Regions from separate parts of the Homo sapiens genome. Here region 1 is linked to region 2. A link means that fine-mapping ties the variant in region 2 to the expression of a gene that starts in the linked region. Tissue or cell type: tibial nerve. Region 2 holds a variant in brackets; the other region holds the start of a gene. All regions are shown on one strand. Distances are between the middles of the regions. Region 1 holds the start of OAF (out at first homolog). Region 2 holds the start of LOC124902773 (a long non-coding RNA gene).

The links.
Region 1: it holds the start of OAF, and the variant in region 2 is fine-mapped to the expression of OAF in tibial nerve (GTEx, PIP above 0.99).

What each region holds. Positions count from the first base shown.
Region 1 is chr11:120,206,295-120,217,116 of GRCh38, reverse strand. It overlaps OAF (out at first homolog), which reads right to left and starts at 6,085. Exons shown (of 4, transcript NM_178507.4): 1 at 5,607-6,085. The coding sequence starts at 5,837. RefSeq lists silencers at 5,768-5,877, 5,968-6,017, 6,198-6,457 and an enhancer at 6,791-7,332.
Region 2 is chr11:120,182,545-120,193,366 of GRCh38, reverse strand. LOC124902773 (a long non-coding RNA gene) reads left to right here and starts at 7,769. Exons shown (of 2, transcript XR_007062923.1): 1 at 7,769-8,117. LOC105369530 (a long non-coding RNA gene) reads right to left here and starts at 7,174. Exons shown (of 3, transcript XR_948101.2): 1 at 4,521-7,174; 2 at 4,371-4,438; 3 at 2,096-4,251. The variant C/T (reference allele first, on the strand shown) is at 6,732.

The sequences.
Region 1 (10,822 bases), 24 kb before region 2:
GCACCAAGGTTTTTTCCAGCCTCCTTCTCCCCTCCACCTCCCTCCCCAGGGTTCTTTAGCCTACTGGAAGGAGCCCACTCATGGTACCATGGCAGACAGGCAGTCAGGATATACTGGAAGGAACCCTGGGTCCTAATCTGGGATCATCAGCTGCTTCATCTTGTCAGCCTCACTTGAGAGCTCCAGGCGATCAGATAAGAGCATGTGTGACATGAGGGACTGCTCAATGGGTGATCTCCAGACCCTATGCAATCCTCACTTCAAGGCTGGGCCCTCCGCCAGCGGAACAGGAGTCTGTCCTAAGTTTATCTCCACCACCTCTCTGTGCCTTGGGAAGCCTGGGAGGGAACTAACTCACTCTCCCCACCAGCTTCCCAGCAGGATCCTCCATTATCCCAGGTGGCAGTCTTCATGGCCTACCGGGATCTTTTGCTAGGACTCCACCTGGACATAGCATTCAGGGGTGGGAGATGCTGGCCAAGCTCCCGGGAGGGGGTCTGAACCCTCAGGCAGGGCTGGCCATCCTGATCTGAGGAGGAATTCCTCACACGCAGAGGAGGGACAGATATTAGACCCAGGAGCCCCATGTCAGTGAGCCTGGTCATTCCATCTGGCGACTTCTTGTAAATACCTGTGAGGAAATGCTCTGAGCTCCAGAAAAGTCTGGGCCTCTCCCGAAAGCACCTCCACTGCCTTTTCCTCCCCAAGGAGACTTTCCATCCATCAGATGCTTCCACGCCAAATCTTAAGGGTGCTAACACAGACAGGGTAGGGGCAGACTGGGCCCTGAAAGCTTCTCGGTCCCACATCTATGTGCTGTGATATCTCCTTGGGATACACGTTCTTAGGTGGCAACGTGGACATTGCACATTCCACATCTTTACTGACTGCACCTCAAGGCTTCCCATGTTGCTCCCCCACCCACAGACCAGGCCCCCCGGCACAGGGGCCCTAGCATTCTTTGGACTATCCCTTCCTCTGGCTCCCACTCACTCATCAGTGCCCAGGACAGGGCTCAAGCTTCCATCCTCCATGGGTCCTTGTCCCTTCGAAGCGGCCCTGAGCTGACCCACACAGCTGTACAGTTCCCCTTATCTTGCTTATTCCCTCCAGGGCTCCAGCTGTGGGCCTTCAGGATCCCCTCCTTCCACACTTTTGGAGTCTGTGTCTCCCTATCCTCCCTGATGCTGGGAGGGGAAAGGGACCCCCACCGCCCACCACCGTGATGCCATCACACATGACCTTCTTCATATCTGTCAGTATCACCCTCCCCATCCGGTCAGCCCCAAGGCAGGCAGCCTGGAGCGTGACTCATCCTCTTCCCAGCTTTTGGCCACTCGGACTAGGGGACAGAGGTGAAAGAGAAACTGGCAAGAATACCAGCTTCCAGGAGGTAGACCAGAAGGGCTGTCAAATAGCCAGTTTAGGGAGAGGGGATGGTGACACACCTATGATTAGATATGCCAGTGATTATGTACATCCAGGGCTAATTACACCCATAGGATGTGGAGTATAAAGGAGAGTGTTGCCCACCAAGGGCGCGCTGTGAATTAGTTTGTGTACTGAGGGCACACAGCATTAGGCCCGAAGTATATGTGCTGCTCAAAACACATTAGGATTAGTGTGGGTAAGATGACAGGTTTCAAATATGTGACTGAGTTTGGGCCCTACCCTCATTTAACCTGAGCTGGCTCCTTCTCCAGGTCCCCTCCCCTCCCCTAGAGCAACTGCGCCAGTGGTTCCCAAACTTTGCTGCACACTGGAATCACCTGGGTTCTTTTGTCACCCAGACTGGAGTGCAGTGGCGCGATCCAGGCTCACTGCAACCTCCGCTTCCTGGATTCAAGCGATTCTCCTGCCTCAGCCTCCTGAGTGGCTGGGACTACAGGTGCATGCCACCATGCCCAGCTAATTTTTTTTTATTTTTTATTTTTTAGTAGAGACGGGGTTTCGCCATATTGGCCAGGCTGGTCTCGAACTGCTGACCTTGTGATCCGCCTGCCTCAGCCTCCCAAAGTGCTGGGATTACATCACCTGGGTTCTTTAAAAGAAAAAACAAAACCAAAACGACTGCTGCCTGACTCCCACCCTGAGATATTCTGATTTCACTGGTAGGGTGTGCAGCCCAGGCAGTGGGAATTTTCAAAGCTCCCCAGGTGATTGTGAGGTGCGGCAAAGCTGGGAGCCACTGAGCTGCGGCATTCTTTCAGAGCTGTGGCTCGGTCAGCCTGATGGCCTTCACTCAGCCTCTGGGCAGGGCTTGCAGTAATGCAGGATGGCCATCTGATAGCTCCAAGCTACTGAGTCTGCAAGCCTCACCTGGGCTCCAGGCTATGTGTCCTCCAGTGGGTTGACGACTGTGACTGCTTTGCTGCGTCAAGGTCCAGAGCAGTAGTGTGGGAGAGAGTTAGACTGTCAGAACTCTGACGCGGGTAGAGGCAAACAGGTGGGAAGGGCTGGAGAGAGGGGGCTGGATAGGGTTGGGAATCAGACAGAAGCCTTGGTCCCATCCCACACAGGGAGGCTCACTGCTGCCCTGGGTGGACTGTCAGGACAAGGATGGCTGCTCCTGCTCTGAGGGGCTGGCCAGCAATTTTGGCACTTCAAGGAGAAGGTTAAGATGAAGAGCTCAAGGATCCTCCAGGCTCAGTACTGACTTTTCTGCATGACCTTGGGTCCGTTGTTCAATGTCTTTGAGTCCAAGTTTAGCAGAGAGGATCCTTGCTGAAATGCTGTGTGAGCCACAATTGCAAAGCTAACAGCTCCTATGTCTTGAGCCCTTAACACAGTATCTAATACAGAGTAAGGATGTCATAGGCACTACTAACTGTGGGATATGTGCTATTATTATCCCCATTTTATAGATGAAGAAATGAAGGTCTGGAGAGATCAAGTAGCTTGCCCAGGGTGAACCTGCTAATAAGTGGTAAACCAAGTCTGTCTCATTCAGTCTGGACTGTTCTCCCCAACGTGATCAAATGGCAAACAAGGCTCTTCCCAAGTAGATGAGGACTTTTCCCAAATCACTGCAAATGAGTTTGGTACAAGAAACACAAAAAGCGTGACTTCCCAGGCTGGAGTGCAGTAGTACAATTGCAGCTCAGTGCAGCCTCAGCTCCTGGGCTCAAGTGGTTTTCCTGCCTCAGCCTCCTTGAATAGCTGGGACTACAAGGCACACACCAGCGTGCTCCGCTAATTTTTAAATTTTTTGTAGAGACAGGGGTCTCGTTTGGCCTGAAGATTTCATATTCCTGGTTTCAAGCGATAAGCCTGCCTCAGCCTCCCCAAATCCTGGGATTACAGATGTGAGCCACCACACCGAGCCGAAGTCTTTTTCTTATAGGAAAAATCATTCCTTCTAGACCAAACTTTCTTATGGAAATCTGACAAACACTATGAGGCATGGGGCCTTGAGAACTGAGAGGTGACCCACCCTAGAAGGATCTGGACATAGAAGCTGCTGTGGCCAGTGCAGGCAGTGAGTGAGTGGCCTGGGTGAGGGTAAGGCTATTCTCCCCCACACTGCACTCTCCAACTCCACCCCGTCCTAGGCCAATGGAGAAACCTGGAGTTAAAGGGACTTGGGAAAGCTGGTTTCCTTTCGGTGTCTTCCACTCCCAATTCCCTCCCTTGCTGATGAAATTGGAGATGCCAGAGGTGGGTATGAAATGGTAGCTTCTGGGTCAGAGGCTAACCTGAAAATCAGACTTTAGAAACCTGGGTGGAGGTCTGAACCACTGTAGAGATTCAAATGAGGTGCTCACAATCTCCAGATGCATTTTCTAACTGGGCAGTCAGATGACCAGCATACCCTCACTCCAATCCCCAGCACCCCACCCCCGCCATCAGCCACTACTGCCAGCACATCACAGCTACCTGGGTACTTCTTAGCCTCTCCCTTCAGATCACAGCAATAAAAACCTTCCAGATGTAGCTAAAGGCTATAAAAGCTCAGCCCTACCCATTGCCTTTCACTGTCCTGGCCACAGCCAGGGAAGTCTCTCTGCAGGATTCTAGTGCAGCCACAAGATGACATCCAGTGGGCAGGGGGTTGGGAGCCTCACAGCCTGGCCTAAGGCTAACTTTCAAGGACAAAGGGCTTGGACAGAAGATTAGATCCCCGATTCCTGATGGATCCAGCCACTAACATAGATTTTTCAGGAACAGAACACACTTGATAAAATTCTCCTAGGGTTTAGGTGGGGAGGCAGGGTGCCTAGCTTAGGCCTGCGGAGTAAGGATGGGCTACAAAGTCTTCCCATTTGTGAACGCTCACTACCCCACCCCCCATCTGCCTGCTTATGTCCAATGTCAGTGCCAACTCCGTGGCCCTGGGGCAATCAGCGGTCAAGCCTCACCCCCCAACCCCACCCACCTCTAGCGGTCAAGCCTAACCCCTCACCCCTGCTAACTATGGCAATCTGGCTGGGTCCCTAACTGACTTCCCAAACTCCGCCACCTCTCCTCTAAAGCGCCCTGTCTCTACGAGGGAGGAAAGACAGGCAGCTTCAGCAAGGGTCCCCGGGGCCCCGGGCTCCCCCAGCTATCTAATCGGCTTCACCCCTGCACTCCCCCAGGGACAGAGCCTCACAGGGCCTCTCTTTAGCTGGGGGAAGGAGACAGAACGCTCCTTTTGAATACCTAAGACTTACCCACCCTCTTTTCCTCCAGCTTTCCTGCTGCTGGGTCACTGTTAGTCACTCACCATCCAGGCCCATTTCCTGATAATCCCCCAGCCCCCTGGGTGCAAGGCCCTTCTTATTCCCTCCAACACAGACACACACACACCAAGAGCGGGCTGGTCTCTAACTCCCAAACCGTAATCTGGGACACACACCCACACACCCACACCCACCCACCCACCCACCCACCGGGCTGGTCTCTAACTCCCTAACCCTAATCTGGGCCAAAATAGGGGGGTTGGCTCGCTTCTCTGCCAGGCAGAGTGAAGGGCAGCACTTCTCCCAGAGGGAGGGGGCCTCAGCTGGGGTCTCTCTCCAGGATCCTCCTGCTGCAAGCGCCCCAGCCTTCCAGACCAAAGAGGAGACAGGGCTTCTCCCGGCTTGAGAGGGACCAGGGGCAACCAGCTCTCCCCAGAAAAGTGAAACAGAGGGAGAGGTGACAGAGGGACTCCAAAATGTCAGGGCTGGGAGGCCTCGCAGACCCCTCAGTGCCCTGTACAGGGGTGAGAAGCCAGGCCCATAGGAGGAAAGAGGCTTGCTTGCTCTAGATCACACAGGGAGAACCCACAGTGAGAGCCCACAGCGAGAACACTTCGCCTAGGACTTTCCCACTAGAGCACAGGGGAATGACTCCAAGAAGGGAGTCCAGTCGTTAGTAGGAGTTCTGGAGGAGGGTTAGCACCTGGGGGGCTCTGGGAGCGCTGGAGGAGGGAGTGAGAAAGGGAAGCAGAGGGGTTCTTTGGAGAGAATGAAGGGGTGGGCCCTGGGGAGTGGGCAAAGAGGTGTAGAGAAGAGCCCGGCGTGACCTTGGGCCAGCTGCGTCTCCCTCCTGGGCCCGTCTTTCCGTCTGCAGGCAAGAGAGCGCCTGGGATCCCGGGGGGCTCAGGCTTGAAGGTGCCACCCCGGCGAGTGAGGGCGCCTCACCTTCTTGAAGTCGGCGGTGAAGGAGACGAGGGTGCCGTCGGGCTTGCGCAGCTCGAGGCTGATGCTGTCCGCGTCGCTGTCCGCCTGCAGGCTCTCCTCGGTCACCTGGCCGTCCGGCAGCCGCACGCGGACCCGCAGCTCGGCCGGCGCACCCGTTCCCAGCAGCGGCGCGAGCAGCGGCAGCAGCAGCAGCAGCGCAGGGCGCGCCAGGGGTACCCCGGGAAGGCGCATCCCCGGGGGCCGCTGCCGTCCGCGGCCCCGGCGCGCCGCGTGGGGGCGGGGAGAGGCGCAGGCAAACTTCGCCCAAAGTTGGGGGCTAGTTCGGGGCGCCCGGGAGCCGCTCCGCCGGGGGCCTTGGCCGCGGGGTCGCCCGCGAGGTGGCGCGGACGCACGTGGGTAGCGCTCAGCAGGGCGCCCCCGGCGGCCCCGAGGCGGAGACGGCGCTGCCCCGGCCCGGCTCCGCGGCCCCGGGCTCCAGCGCTGCGAGCCTGTGTTTTGCACTTTTCATTCAATCCCACCCCCCGTCACTTCCTTCAGAAAACAGAAACCACCAGGACCCGCCTTAAAGAGACCGCGCACCTCGCGGCCCTTAAAGGGCCCGCGGCTGCTCTCCGCACTTCGGCGTTGGCCGGGCAGGGGGCGGGGAGAGGGGGCAGCGGCTCCGCGGCTTTGTGCGAGCGGCCTCCTCGACCTCCCTCCCGCCCGGCCGCGCGGAGTCAGCGACCCAGGCGGAGTCAGAAGTTTGCTCTCCCGGGGCAAATCCCTTCCTTCCAGCAGGGGCAGGACGGGTGACTCTTCCCCCGCCCTGCACCGCCACCCCCCCCCCCCGCTTTTTTTTTTTTGGCTTGCTTTTGTGCCACGTGGATGAAATAATCGGGCTTGGATTTTTAGGGGTTTTGTTTGGTCTTTCAGTTTCTCTGACAGCGAATTTCTAAAAAGCTTCTGCAAAATCAGACCTCGCTTTGCACTCTGCCTTTTCCCTGCCCCACACTGGGAGGGTGGATCGGGGGTTCTCGCCCAGCTTTGCCACGGCCAGGTGTTAGACCTTGATGGGTCAGGTCACCCACTGGGACGCGGCCCTCAGGTTTTGTGAGCCCCTGTGCCTCTTTCCTTTTCAGTCCTGCCTCCCGTGCTTCCCGCATTCACGGCCTTTCCTCAGTCCTGCCCACCACCGCAGACCCGGTTCTTTCTCTCTATTATAGACTATGAAAATCCAGGGAAATGTTGGATTCCAGGTCACTTGGGAGAATTTCCAGGGACTCGGGACGCTGGCGCTCCACGACAGTGGCTTTCCCACAAGCCACAAGGAAACATGCGTGCCCTGCGGTGCACCCCAACAATAAGAAGGGTGAAGACCAGGAGATCTGGATTGCTGCCTCCTCTGATTAGTTGTGGAATTTAGGCACGTTTTAAAAATTCTTTGGGCTTAAGTGTCCCCGTGTGTATCGTGGAAGCTGCTCAGACCTACACTGTCCTGCCAGTCCCAGGCAAGGGAAAAAGCCCCACGAAGATGCTCAAAACCAATTGTTCCCTGACTTCCATTTTCACTTCTGTTGGGACCTTGATTACTGATGGGTGAAAACTCCCTTCTCTGCAGCCTCCTTCCCTTCTAGGGCTTCCCCAGCACAGGGCCATGTGAACTGCAGGGTCCGGCTAGAATCGGCCTCTTGCTATCATCCAGGGGCCCTTCCCGCTACCCGCTCTCTGCTGCCTAGATTTAGGACTGAAGGGAATTTAAGAGACTACCAAGTCAGCCTTTTCCAAATTTGCCTTTCCTGAAGAATCACCTGGATGCTTGTTAGAAAATAGATTCCCGAATCCCTAAACCCATGGAATCAGATTCTAGGGAAAAGAACTGAGGATTAGCATTTTTGACAAGGCCCACATGATGCTCGACATAAGTGGTTGACAGCAGGTATTTGGCAGATGTTTAAGCATAGAGCGTCTGGGCCAGACGCGGTGGCTCATGCCTGTAATCCTAGCACTTTGGGAGGCCGAGGCGGGCGGATTGCCTGAGCTCAGGAGTTCGAGACCAACCTGGGCAACAAGGTGAAATCCCGTCTCTACTAAAATACAAAAGAAATTAGCTGGGTGTGGCGGCGTGCGCCTGTAATCCCAGCTACTCGGGAGGCTGGGGTAGGAGAATTGCTTGAACCCAGGAGGCAGAAGTTGCAGCGAGCCAAAATTGCGCCACTGCACTCCAGCCTGGGTGACAGAGGAAGACTCCGTCTCTACAAAACAAAACAAAACAAAACAAAACAAAAACATAGAGCATCTGAAACAAGCAGCATCCTTCCTGGAGAACCTGGCTCCTAAGGAGTTCATCTTCACATCCGGGAGATAAGGCAGGCTGTTAGGGAATAATTGGATTAGCACAAGGATTGCTCCCCTAAGGACTCCCACTCTTAGCTGGCAACCGTTTAGACTAGAGATGCCCAGGGTCTTGAAATTGGCCTCCCGCCTGACAGGATGCTGGATCTCCATGCGGCCTTGAAGCTAGGTCTCCCACATGAGTCAGCCCACACAGTCATTAAGGGCCTCGCCCACATTTCCTAACTTCCCTTGTTTCAGGTCCTGTCCCCATCCGCCACCAGCTCTGCCCTCAGCCATTTCCCAGGCTCTTACCCCTTCTCCTCCCACAACAGCCCAGAAGTGGGCAAAGAAGCCCTGGATGTCAGATTTCTTGTTTAGGTCCCTGAGGTTTGTCTCTGTTCACATTTTGGGTTTGGAAACAAGGATGGAAGACCTCATCTCTTTCCCACCTCTTCCCCATAGTCAACTTCCTTCTCTACTTCAACCACAGATCAAACCAGATTTTTCTTTGAAAGTGATAGGGCATTTGAAATCTCACTCCATTACATAAGCCCTGCCTACCTACATCTCTATGCCTTGCTATTGATTTCACCTGACCACCTCTTCAAGCTCCAGGACAAAACTCAGGTTTCCCAGGAAGACTTTCTCGACTCCCCACCGACCTAGCCCTCTGTTCTGTGCCACTGTCTCCGGCCTCTGGACTCCAACAATAGTCATTATTATAGCAGCTCCTCCCCCATTGTATTTTGATTATGTCCAGGTTCTGTGCCAAGCATTTTACATGGATCATCTTATTTAATTTTCATGGCATCCCTCCAAAGTAGGTTCTATTCTTAGGCTCTTTTTACTGACTAGGAAACCAAAGCTTAGAGAGGTTAGGCAACATACCCAAGGTCACAAAAGCAGTAGAGCCAGCCGGGACTCAAACACAAGTCTGCCCGCCTGACCACAAAGCCCTTGCTTTGAACCACAGTAGCCTCTGCCTGTCGGTAGCCCTCACTTTCTGCCAGTCCCACTCGGGGCTCACATCCTGCGCTATCTTCTCCTGTTATCTAACGGTTTCGCGTGTGGCAATCCTGTATCCCCAGTGAAGCCGTCAGCTAGTTCAAACAGGCCAGCCCCGTGCTGGGAACAGACAGCGTTTCCCTCAAACCATCCGGGCATAGAAGCATCCATTCATCTTAAATGTAAAGGCCGTCAGAGGAAGAGCTCTAACAAGCCTAATTACTCCGACTACAACCAAACAGCCCTCATTGTCAGAGAGTTCTTCATGTCTCATCGCAAGACCTCTGCCACACCATAAACCAATTTCCTTTTTTTTCTCATCTCTAGCCCTTGGAAAGCAGTAGCCAGTAGTGGTTCAGAAAATGGGCATCAGGATCTCAGTCCTGGAGCTCGGCCCCAGTCATGAGCTGTGCGTCAGTGAGCCTGTTTCTTCAACTGTAAAATGGGCGCATACGTTTCTCCCTCACTGGGTTGCTTTGAAAATTAAATGAAACATTGTGCATAAAATATTTCGCAACATGTTTGGCATATAGTACAGATCCAATAAATGGTGGCTGTTATCCTTTAATTCTGTTTATTCTTTCCCATTGTATCACATACTAAATCTCTGATTATACAAGTCTCTCCCTCTCACCCCCTGCCACATGTATACGCGTGCATGTACACATATTCTTTCAGAAACATTTTTTTGGCTGGGCGCGGTGGCTCACACCTGTAATCCCAACACTTTGGGATGCCGAGGCGGGTGGATCACCTGAGGTCAGTAGTTCGAGACCAGCCTGGCCAACATGGCAAAACCCGTCTCTACTAAAATACAAAAATTAGCCGGGTGTGGTGGTGGGCGCCTGTAATCCCAGCTACTCCGGCGACTGAGGCACGAGAATCGCTTGAACCCAGGAGGCAGAGGCTGCAGTGAGCTGAGATCGTGCCACTGCATTCCAGCCTGGGTAACAGAGCGAGTTGGTCTCAAAGAAAAAAATAAATACATAAAAAAGAAATATTTCTTCCTCTCTATCCTCTTTAGGTGTCTAAGTTTTCTGTGTCTTGAGACCTCCGAAACTGAGAAATGGATAGCAGCAAAACCTCGGGAGGCACTTTCCCTTTGCTTTTTGGTCTGAGTGTGCCTTAATTTGGGAGGAAGAGAAACACCAAACCATCTCCCAATCTGTGCCCAAGAAAACAGGTGCTGACAAGACCCTGCAGGAGGTGGAAAGGGAAACTGAACCAATGACCTTTACCGAGAGACAGGGAGAGAACCACCAGGTGCTTGTCTTTGCAAGACTGGAAAGATTTTTTTCTTCCCATGACTTTCTGTGAGTGGCTGTTTGGTTTGGGTTAGGTTACAGCCCCTTTGTCTCTGGGCCTTTGCAGATAGAGTGGAGGATTTGCGATTTGAGTTTGAGGGAGAACCAGGGATGGAGTGAGGGATCCCCTCTGCTTCTCAATGTCAATTGCAAAGCTCCAGACACTTCATTGCCAGCACAGAAGTACAAATTAGCTTTCCGCCATCACACAATTATGCAGTTCCATCCATCAAGGGTGTGGTGGGAAAGTGGATTGGAGAGACAGCTGGTGGGGATACTGAGTGGAAAGGGAAGAGAAGTGGAGATGGCTGGGATAGGCATGGAGAAGCTATTCTTTTCGGGCAGAAAAACCAGGCAGAAGGGAAGTTGTCATGGAGGTGGGCTGGATCCATGACTTTCAGGAAGGAAAAGGAAGCCTGGATGATCAGAGCTGCAAGCCAAGGCAGATCTCAGTCCATTGATTAGTCCATTGATTATGGTAGCTCTTCAGGTGCCTTTTACCCTCTGCCTCTTGCTATAATTATTTCACAGTATTTGTGTTTGAAACCAGAGGCTACAAAAGAACCTAGGCCAGCTGTAAGTGGTGCTGCTCAG
Region 2 (10,822 bases):
GTGCTCCCTCTGGTCCCAACACAGCGGAGGACTGGCCCCTGCCTGCCTCTGGGGCCGCTCTGGTGGTAGTCAAGGTGAGTTCAAGGTCAGCAGCATGCTGCCACAGCCGCAAGCCGGCCTCGTAGCTCCTCCCTCAGGCCCCAGCCCTGGAGCACTCTGGAGCCGATCATGGGAGGAGGATCTTTCCTGAACTTTGTCTCTGGAGGGCCCAAGCCAGTTCTACCGTTGGTGTGTCCATTTGCAGAGGGGCGCCTGGTACCAGTCCTCCCCTGAGGGGCAATGCCCCCGGAACTACAGCTGGGGAAGGGCAGCAGGTCTGGAAACAAGCCAAGAGCACCCCGTCTGGTGCCGGTGGACTTTCTTGCATGAATTGGCAGCTCCGTCAAGCTTTGGCATCAATTCCAAAAGTGGAGCATTGGGGCTTGTCCTGTCACCTGGAGATTCTGAGCACATATTTACAGTTTACAGAAGTAGAAACAAAAGTAACCCTTTTATCTCCTCAGAGGAAGCTGGCCCTTCCACTGAGTACAGGAGCCGGAGACAATGTAACCTTCCCTGAGAAGATACTCTTTGGGGTAGGAGGCAGCTGTCTAGACGTGGCACCACCGAATGCACCCTAGCAAATCAGGAAAATCTCTTTTTCCTTTTTTTTCTTTTTTTCTGAGACAGAGTCTTGCTCTGTCGCCCAGGCTGGAATGCAGTGGCGCGATCTCGGCTAACTGCAAGCTCCACCTCCCGGGTTCACACCATTCTCCTGCCTCAGCCTCCGGAGTAGCTGGGACTATAGGCGCCCGCCACCACGTCCGGCTAATTTTTTTGCATTTTTAGTAGAGACGAGGTTTACACCGTGTTAGCCAGGATGGTCTCGATCTCCTGACCTCGTGATCCTCTCGTCTCGGCCTCCCAAAGTGCTGGGATTACAGGCATGAGCCACCGTGCCCGGCCATCTCTTTTTCCTTAAAATGCTCAACTGGTGTGTGCAGAACTCCCCCTTGCCTCAGCAACTGGGAGGAGTGCCTTGAAATGGCAGCGTGGGTCAGGAGCTGGGGCTCTGGGTCTAAGTGCCAGGTCGGCCATCTGCAGGAAGGAGCAGCAGCAAGATTCTCTACTGAGCTGGGCCCTGCTTTCCTCACCCGGTGGGGAATGTCTTTCAGCTGCGGGAGGTTATTTGTGACTGCCATCTTTTTCTCTTCTCTTCTTTTTTTTCAAAAAAAAAAAAAAAATCTTTGTGAGAAAAACCCCACCGTTCCACTTGTTTTCTCCGAGCCGTTTTGTTAGTTGAGGTGTTTGCATGCTGAGCAACACACACTAATATTTTCCTCCTCGTCAAAACATTAATTATCCCACCCAGGAACCTTTCTCTTGGATGTTTTTTCTTTACCACCCCTTAAGCTGTTGGGCACCAAGCGATTCCTGTATTTCCCATCATCTCAGCAAGCTGACTGTGATGTTTAAGGAGAGAGAGGCCCCCTTGGCTGGGTGCGGACCCTCCTTTGTGCTCTGTGGCACCCAGTAGTCAGGATGCAGTACTCAGGAGAGCTCCTGTCCCCCTGCTTCTCACTCTATGTGCGAACCATCTGTTTACATCTCTTGTCGTCTCCCACGAGGCTGTGAACGTCCTCATGTCTGTATTCCCGACACCCAGGACAGTGCCTGGCACAGAATAGTGGCCCTACAAATGTTTGCTGCACAAGCACATAAATGAATGAAAATGAAGATAGAATAATAAACACGCAGTAGGAGGAGTCAGGGTTCAAATCAGCCCCCCTGGTTGGGCCCCGCCCCCCAGCCTCCATCTCTTGCCTGTTCATAGAGGGAGCAGTTGTAAGCACAAGTTGGGTCCTTTGCTCTCCCTAGCACTTGGGAAGCCCCATCCTCTCTCCCTGCTTGAGGCCATTCTCAGCTGCCAGACAGCCAGTGTGTTCAGGGGGAGCCCAGTTTCCTCCTCCCTGGTCTCCCCTTGGTTGAGAGTAAGATGGGACAGCAGGGAGAATTCAGAACTTTAGAGTCTGGAAATTAGGGAGGCTCCAGGGAACAAATGCAGAGCTCGACAGGACCTTAGCAATCACTGGAGCCAGCTCCTCCCCTCCTCCCGCTTCAAAGACAAGCCTCCCAGAGGGCTGAGATGTCTGGTTCATGGTCACCTACAGGTGAGAAGTGGGGCTGGGATTCAGGCCCTGGGCAGTTATCAAGAAACAAGAGCCTCCTAATTAATTCTGAGTACAGGGCCTTTCTAGTCCCTCCTGCTACCGTGTTCTGTGCCACAGTGAGGAGGGCATGGCCTCATCATCTCCCTGTGTGCAGCGCAAACTCCTTTCATCTCCCTTTCAGCTCATTTGATCCCCACAGTGCTCTTCTGAAGTAGGCAGAGTGATGATTTCTCCATTTTGCAGATGAGGAAATTGTGGTGCAGAAAGCGTAACGGAGCTGCCTAAGGTAGCAGAGCTGTCCTGCGGTAGAGTTAGGGCTGCAGTCCTGCATCCAGAGCCCTGTGCCTGCACCCACCACATGCTCTTTCCAGGTCAGATCTCTCTGCTGCTCTGCCCCTTCCCACTAGGAGCCTGAGCATCTGATTCGACTTGGCTCCAACAGAGATACCAGATGTCCTGTAGTCAAGACCAGAGCCCAGGATCCCTCCTTCCCAGCTATGGCCAGGACTCTGCAGACAGTGGACCTCTCCGTGAAGGCCCAGAGCTTTCAGCCCTAGGCCCAGGGGCTGAAGGGCTGGCGAGTCTTCGTTGTTGAGATTAAAGCCCTTCTCCAACTGGAGAACATTTAAAATGAAACCTCCCCGTTGCATTTGTCCTGCTCAGTTTTGGAAAGTGGGCAGGTAGCTCACGAGAGGGTTCTCGTTCAGCCCCTGCCTGGCCTTACCACCCTCTTCTTTGGCCCTAAAATCAAGTGAGCTATTCTTTAGCAAGGGTGAGACACTAGGCACTGGCTTGGTCCACTTCGAAAGGGTAGAAGGGGGCTCCTAGGAAGGTATGAGCGATCTAGCCACTTCCCTCTCCATTCTGCATGCCGTACTGTCCTCCGTGTGTGCTTTAGAGAAAGGTAATGGTATGGCTGTTCCATGCAAATGTGTTTTCTCAAAGACATGACTTTTGTACCATAAGCTGTTTCCATCTAGGACCTATTTCTGTGGGATGGTCTGAGGGTGAAGCTAAGGAGAGAAGGCATATGTGAATTTATTTTGTTTATCTGAACATCTGTGTTTGGCCGGCCCCACCCCTACAATGTAAGCTAAAATGCTGTATAATAGGTTTATGTATGTACCTATACTGCCAAAGGTCATGGTTGAATCCTGTGACTAGGTAGAGTTTACCTGTCAATTGGCTAAATCAGAGACCCATATGTTTCATAGTCAAGGAGATTCTGCAGCATAAATGGCTGGCCCAGGGACCACTGGCCTGTATGCATCACTGCCCTGCTCATAAACCTCATGGCTCCCCACTGGCAAATGTTGAGTCCACCTTCCTCAACCTGTATTCAAGGCCTGCCATCATCTTCTTCCTGCCAGACTGGCCTTCAGGTCCTGTGCCTTGGCAGGTGAGCTTTTCCCCTGCCTCCCTTCTCTCTCTCTCTCTCTCTCTCTTCCTCCTTCCCTCCCTGTCTCCCTTTCTTCCTCCCTTTAAAGAGCACCAGACACTGTTTTAAGTGCTGGGGACACAGTCACTAAGTGTGGTGGACAAGACACAGGAGGCTTTAGCTTACGTTGTAGAGGTGGAGACAAAAGAAAACAGATATTCAAATAAACAAGATAAATTCAGATAAGTGCTATGAATACAATAAAACAAGATGATGTGCTACAGCAGGGGTTCCCCCACCGCCCATGCTCCTCAACGTTAGATTCTCAAAGGATGTGAACCCTATTGCGAATTGCACACTCCTTATGAGAATCTAATTCCTGATGATCTGAGGTGGTACAGTTTCATCTTCAAACCATCCACTTCCTGCCCTCCCATCCGTGGAGACATTGTCTTTCATGAAACTGGTTCCTGGTGCTAGAGAGCTTTGTGGGTAGGAGTGAGGCTGAATTCTCCCTACCCCCATGGCCTTCACAGGTAAATGCTGCCCATTGGTCAAAGCCTGCCCACATGTCACCTCTTCCAGGAAGCCTGCCTGCCTTCTCAGCTTGGCAGTGTTCTCTCCCACCACTGGACTCCAGAGCACTTTATTCCGCTCCCTTGCAGGGTGTGGAGTGGCTTGCAGCACAGTCCATGGTCATCCTTGCTGCTGGGCTGTAAGTTCCTTAAGGGTGGAGAAAGCACCTCTTTCAGCCCCTGCCTCCCACTTCCCCGGCACTTCCCTGGCACAGAGTAGCTGGTTAATAAGAGTTTGCTGAGAAAATGTGCAAGGATATCTCCTACCTCAGAGGGCAAAGAGCAGCCGGGGCCCATCCCCAGGGTCACCTGCTGAGAAGAGGCCACTTTTCTCCCTGGAGAGGGACAGAGGAAGGGGTATAGTTGAATGGGAGAATTTATGCCCAGGGCAGGAGGTGGTGGGTGGGTTCAACTCACCAAGGTAATCCTGTTGGACAGGAACACCTCACACTCTTCTAAACCTTTACAGACTTTGCTCTGATGAGAGGCCTAAGAAGAGTGTCATGCCCCTTCCTTGGCTTGGGGAAGTCTGGACCTGTGTGTAGGGGCGTGGGGTGAGGTGGGGTCGGTGTGCATTGTGCCAGGGTGTATGGCTCAGAGCATGTGTGCAGTGAGGTGTTTGTGAGGTGTCTGTGACTGTGGTCCTAGAACTGTGGGCATAGGATGTGTGAGAGAACAAGTGAGTGCGTATGTGAATGTGGTGGTGAGGTGCGTGCAGGGTGGCTGGTTTGTGTAGTGTCTTTGTGTGTTTGGATGTTGAGTGGTGGGCTGGTGGTGGTGGGGGTGTGTGTGTATCTGTGGTACAGCCCGTGGGGTTGGGGGACAGGGAAGGGTGGAGCAGCAGTGGCCTGGGCTCTGGGGGGCCAGCATCTGTGGTATTAGGGCTCAGAAAATGATACCCACAAAGATGGCACTTTGACATGCTGAATTGAAGAAGCAGCCTCCAGGTCTCTCTGACCTACCTCCCACAAAAGCCCCTGTCTCTCCCAAAGCACAGGATGAGGCTGTCTTCTGAAGCTCCCATATCGAACTGGAAACTGGACTCCCAAGCAGGAGCAGAATTGCCTTCGATCCCTCTCCTGAAATTTCATTAATCAGAGGAGATGAAAACTCCTACCACAGAGGAAGAGACTGATCACGAAACACCACATCTAGAGCCCAAACTGTGTCTCAAACTATTGTTTGTTCTCTGGTCCCATTCAGTTTCCAAAAAGAATCATTCACAAGATAATGCCTGCCTCCTGGCTCCATTCATCCCCCACCATAAAAGTATTTATGCCTGTAACACCTTGTCTCTTTCCACTATAAAGAAGGGTTTACAAGCACCTGGACCTCTCTGGGTTATCGGGTAATCATTCTCCCGCCATACCCCTGTGCTATGCATGTTAAATAACATCCGTTTACCTCTTTTTTCTATTGATCTGCTTTTTGTCAGCTCACTTTCTGCAAACCTTCAGAGGGTGAAGGGGGAAGCTTTCCTTCTTTGCCCCTACACTGGCAACTGGGACTTCACTTTCCAGCTGCTAGCTGGGGCCTTAGAGAGGACCCCACAACTGGAAGCCATCACAGCTCTTCCCCCACCCTGCTGGCCTGTGGGGGATGCTGTTGCCTCTTCAGCTCCCCTCTGACTGTGGTCCCTCTGTTTCGAAGCCCTAGCCTCAAGCCTCATCCCCACTCTCTTTCCTACTACCAAGAGCAGACACCAAAATATTTCTGCGTTTCCTCTGGAAAAATCCTGGGAGGTCTGTTTATGGCTGTAGCAAAGCGGCACACATCTGTGCACAGTTGAGCTGGGACAGCTGGAAACTCAGGCACTGGAGTTTGCTGGAATTCGGAGCACGTTGGTGTACACAGTGCCTGCCCCCCACCTACCCACCCAACGTGCCTCCCCATCTCTGCACGAGTGTCCCACCAGAGTCAGTTCTTGCTTCTATGAATAACCCTTCCCTGGCCCCTGCACAAACACACCCACATACGCAGACACACTCCTGCACACAGCCGATTTCAGTAGGACACACAGAGACAGAGAAAGGGACACGTGGCACACAGATATGCCAGCACATTCTGAGAACAAACTCAAGCATGGTTCCTCAGGTCTAGAGGCCCACAGACACACACAGGCACCCTCCCGCTTCACCAGGGCACACCCTTGACCTGTCACCCACCAGTAACACCTACATACACCAGCAGACACGCAGGACAACGCATGCTGACTCGGCACACCCACATATAAACATGCAACCCACACAGAAGGTGTGATTCACCTCCAGCCACGTACAGAAACCCACTCCCAGCCAGTCGGGGCCCGCCACCTAACCTCAGGCGAGGACTACCCTCCCCTGGGAGACCTGGGGACTCCTGAGCCTGGGAATGTCCCTGTTCTTTCCCATTGCCTGCCCTGTCCCTGACCCTGGCTCCCCTCTCAACTCTACCATGTGCTGTCTCTGTCAGGCAGGCCAGGGAACCTGAGTTCCCCCAGTCCTGACCTGCCTCTTCCTTCCCTTCTGTTCCTGTACCCCACATCTTTCCAGAGGCCTAGAAAGCTCTAGGGCTAATTATCTCATGGCCCTCCCTGCTGCCAGGAACTCCTCTGCCCAGTGGCTGACACCCCTTCTGCCTCCCTCAATC[C/T]TTCAGGGCTGCTCTTGGATCTGAAGTCTCTTCTTCCTCAGCCCCAGGCCCCCCAGATTCCCACAAGGCTCCCTGATGGGGAAAGAAATGTACTCTTCAGGACAGATTGGGGAGGAGCAGGCAGATGAAGGGAGACAGGAAGAAGGGGAGAGAGAAAGTGGAAAGAAACAAAATGAACAGATATTTCCTAAGGCCTAGGAAGGAAGGAGGGGCAGATTGAGTGCAGCTGTAGGATGCCCAGGGTAGCAGGTGTCTGTGGGGAGCAGGGACAGAGCTGGGCCACCTCAGACCCCCTTGCTTTGCTGGGCACCCATTTTAAGGGCTTACTTGGCCCACATGAGGACAAGGCCTCTCTAGCAATTTATCCCAAACTCCTGATCTTCTCAGGCCAGACCGGGATTCTCCAGGGCTCTTGGAGTGGGGAGTTCTAGGCCTCCTCTTTAGCCCCCTCCATCCATAATTTCCAACCTCACAAGCCTTCCCAATCCCCCTTGGGGCTCTTCCTCTGGATAGGAGCCCAGTCTGCATGCAGCCCCTGCCTCCTCTCAGCCCTTCCCACCCCCCACTTCTTTCCAAGCTGGAACATCACAGCTATTCTCAGCTTTCTGTCCATATTCTGTGGACAATCATGGAATTTTTTAACCCAATCTTGGGTTAGGAACACCCTCCAAACTCTACTGGAAGCCTCAAAGCACTTTCCTTCATATTTATGAGATCTGAGGCAGGTTTCTTTAAGTCTTTGCAACTTGGTTTCCTCAATGTAACATGGAAACACCCAGCTACTAGCACGGCTGTGAGCTTGGTCTCTGCAGAGCACCCAGCCCAGGGCGTGATGTTTAGCAGGGGGCCCTTGATAAATTTAAATTCCCTTCTCCTTCCCCCACTTTTCCCTTTTACTTTGCTACACACTATTTAAGCCAGGAGAGATCAAACTGACCCCATTGCCCTGGGACAAAGGAATGATGGCCTCAATTCAAGAGCAAAGTACAGGAGTTTTTGATTAACTCATAAACACTCCCGACTTCCAGCAGCCCAGCTGCTGTGGTGTGGGGTGGGGAAGGGAGGGGAGGGGAGGTTGTTGAGGGGACATGCAGGAAAGAGATTAGGAAATTCAGAACAGGAGGACACAAGGGCAGGGGAATGCTGAGGCCAAGGCCTTCTCCCACCACCTGCCTCCTGCGGGAGTGATTCCACAGTGCAGAGGGAGAGCCATTTGGAGGTCCGGCACCCGCTCTGCCCATGCCTATGCTTCAGGCTCTGTGAGAAGGCTGGACTCCTTCTGGAACTTCAGGACCTTGGATGCTCCCCTCCTCTGCTCCTGCCTCCCTTCCCCCAGCCCTGGGGTGTGTCAGATGTGTGTTTTCTCCTGGACTCAGCTGAAGCAAGGTCAGCCCAGCTTTCAAGGGGAGGAGCTTCCACACTCTAGGTCAGTGCTCCCGCGGACCAGGGACTTGACCAGAGAGCAGAGAGCATAGGGTGGGGTGTGGGGTGGGAGGACAGAGCACAGGGAGCCCTGGGCTCCCTCCAGAATCTCAGAGGTGCTCACATCCAGAGGGTCTCCCAGGAATCACGGAGCCCCCCCTCTGCCTCCATGCCAAAGGGATCCCAACTCATCCCAGGAAGAAGCCCAAATCTTTGTGCCATGGGGACCAAACATTCCACATGGTGGCTGTCCTCATGGTTTGCATGGTCATTCTGATTTCTAACCCGAATCTTTCCCGCATCGCTAATGGATCCTGTAGGTTCCAAGGAGTTAGTCATGATATCAAGTAAGCAGTTTGTTTCCCCTGAGGATGAGCCAAATTTTGGGAAGATTCTCAGCTGCCTGTCTCCACCCTCCTTCATCCAACTTACCACCCCGACCCTGTCCTCCTCCCCACCCGGACACGTGGGAAAATGCCCTGTTAGCCCTTCCAGTCATGTGAATGAGGCCACGATTCAAAGGCAGTGGGCAAGAAGGAGGCCACAGGGAGCAGCCAGAAAGAACCAGCCCTTTGTGCTAGACAGGGGTCCTTGGGGGATGAGTGCATTTTTGGCGTATTTAGAAATATTTATTTTTTATAATGAGCAGCAGAGGAGGAAAGGGGAGGGAGGGAGAGGCAGAGAGGCCAAGGCAGGACTTGGGAAAAGAGGCTGGAGCAGTGGTGAGGGCTGGGAAGGGAGGTTACAAGAGCGAAAGGAGAAACAGACAGGAGCCAAAGGGTAAGAAGTGGGGACAGAGAGGGAGAAGCAGGACGGTTCTGAAGACAGATGGAGATAGTGACGACACAGGTGCCTGCCACCATGCCCAGCTAATTTTTGTATTTTTAATAGAGACAGGGTTTCACCATGTTGGCCAGGCTGGTCTCAAAATCCTGACCTCAGGTGATCCTTCTGCCTCAGCCTCCCAAAGTGCTGAGATTATAGGCATGAGCCACCATGCCCGGCTGTCATTCTGATTTCTAACCTAAATCTTTTCGGCATATCTCATAGCCAGAGTTCTGGCTGGCGGCCTAGGAAACACCTCTCCTCCTCAGTCATTTGTAGAGTAGATATCAGTGATAGCTCTCCGGAGCCCCCATCCTCTCCCGGCCTGTTTTCCACTTGGCATGCTGTGTGGTGAGCCCTCCATTCACAGGCTTGTTTCCCCCAGGCACTGCCTTTACTGGCCTCAGAAAGCCTGACACCTGGCCCTGGCTGGAATACTCAGGTCCGTGTATTTACAAACATGGTTAGAGCATCAGCTCCGTGCCTGGAGTGTGCAAGGACCTGGGGAACCAGATATAGTCCCTCTCTCATGGAGCTGACCTAGCTGGGGAAATGGATGAGCGAATCAATGATTATACTGCATGATGATGGGGATGATGGCAGGGGCCATGGAACACAGTGGGGCTCTAGAGTGAAGGGTCTGGGGAGGTGGGGCGCGGGGTGGCAAATCCAGGAGGGCCTCTTGGAGGACATGGGGACATACTGAGTCCTGAAGAAAGGGAGATCTCATCTCTATCAAATTCTAGTGGGTTCAGGCTTGCTAGTCTCCTTTCCCCAGTCTTGCCACCCATTTTTGGGAAAAATAACAATAATTCATCAATCATTAATTCATCAGAAAAATACTTATTGCCTATGTAACATGCCAGGCATTGTGCTAGTGTCTAGAAATTCAACGATGATGAAGACCTAGTCACTGCCTCCCTGAAGCTCCCAGCCAAGTGAGAGAGCTGACAAGCAGGCAAGCAGTGAGCCCCTGGAGACCATGTGGAGTCTGTGCCAGGGCTCTCGGAGTGCACAGAACCCCTGTGAGCAACCAGCCTTCTCACTTGACACTCCTTCCCTGAACCCAAGGAAGAGGAGCCATCCTTGCCATTTGACAGAGGCTGCTGGCTTGCCCAAGGTTCTAGGGCAAGTACCTAGGGGACCCGCCACCTCTCCTCAGTTCTCAGACTCGAAGCCCCTGCTCTTGTGTCCTCCTAGCCTGGTCTTGCAGGAGAAAGAGGCTGAATGAAGGTGGGCTTGTCGCCTGGGTGCTGACTGCTCATGAGCAGGCTCCTGGGTGACCCTGCAGAAAGTTGGAACAGTGTCCTTCCTCTCAGGCTGCAGGTCAAAGATCTGGTTCCTTTGCTTCTCTGGCTTCTCCCAGTAGGTGGGGCTGTGGGAAAGGCTGGGAAGGTCAAGGGCCTCTGGAGTACTCTAGGCCCCTGGGCTTAGCCTGGCAGAATGGTTCTCCTCTACTTCCTACCTTCTCCCTCCTCCTGCCACATCCTCCCCAGCCTCCTTACCTTCCTCCTCCTCCTCCTCCTCATCTTTCCTGTGTCGTCCTCTTCTCCTTCCTCATTACTTCTCTTTCTCCAGTTTTCCTCCTCTTCCTCCTCTCCCCTTCCCTTCCTTTCCATTTTCTCCCCCACCTCCCCTCTTCCCTCCTCCTCTTTCTCCTTTTCTCCTTCGAACTAATTGCTTAAGGGGTGAAGACCAGGTCGACTTGTGAAAACCCTGATCCATCGCCATGGTGATGCTCATTCAAACTGAGTTCAAAGGAAATTGTTCCAGTTAAAACTAACAAGCTGGAGCCGAGGGCCCCAGGAAGGACCAGTGCCAGGAGGAGCAAGCCCTGCACCCAG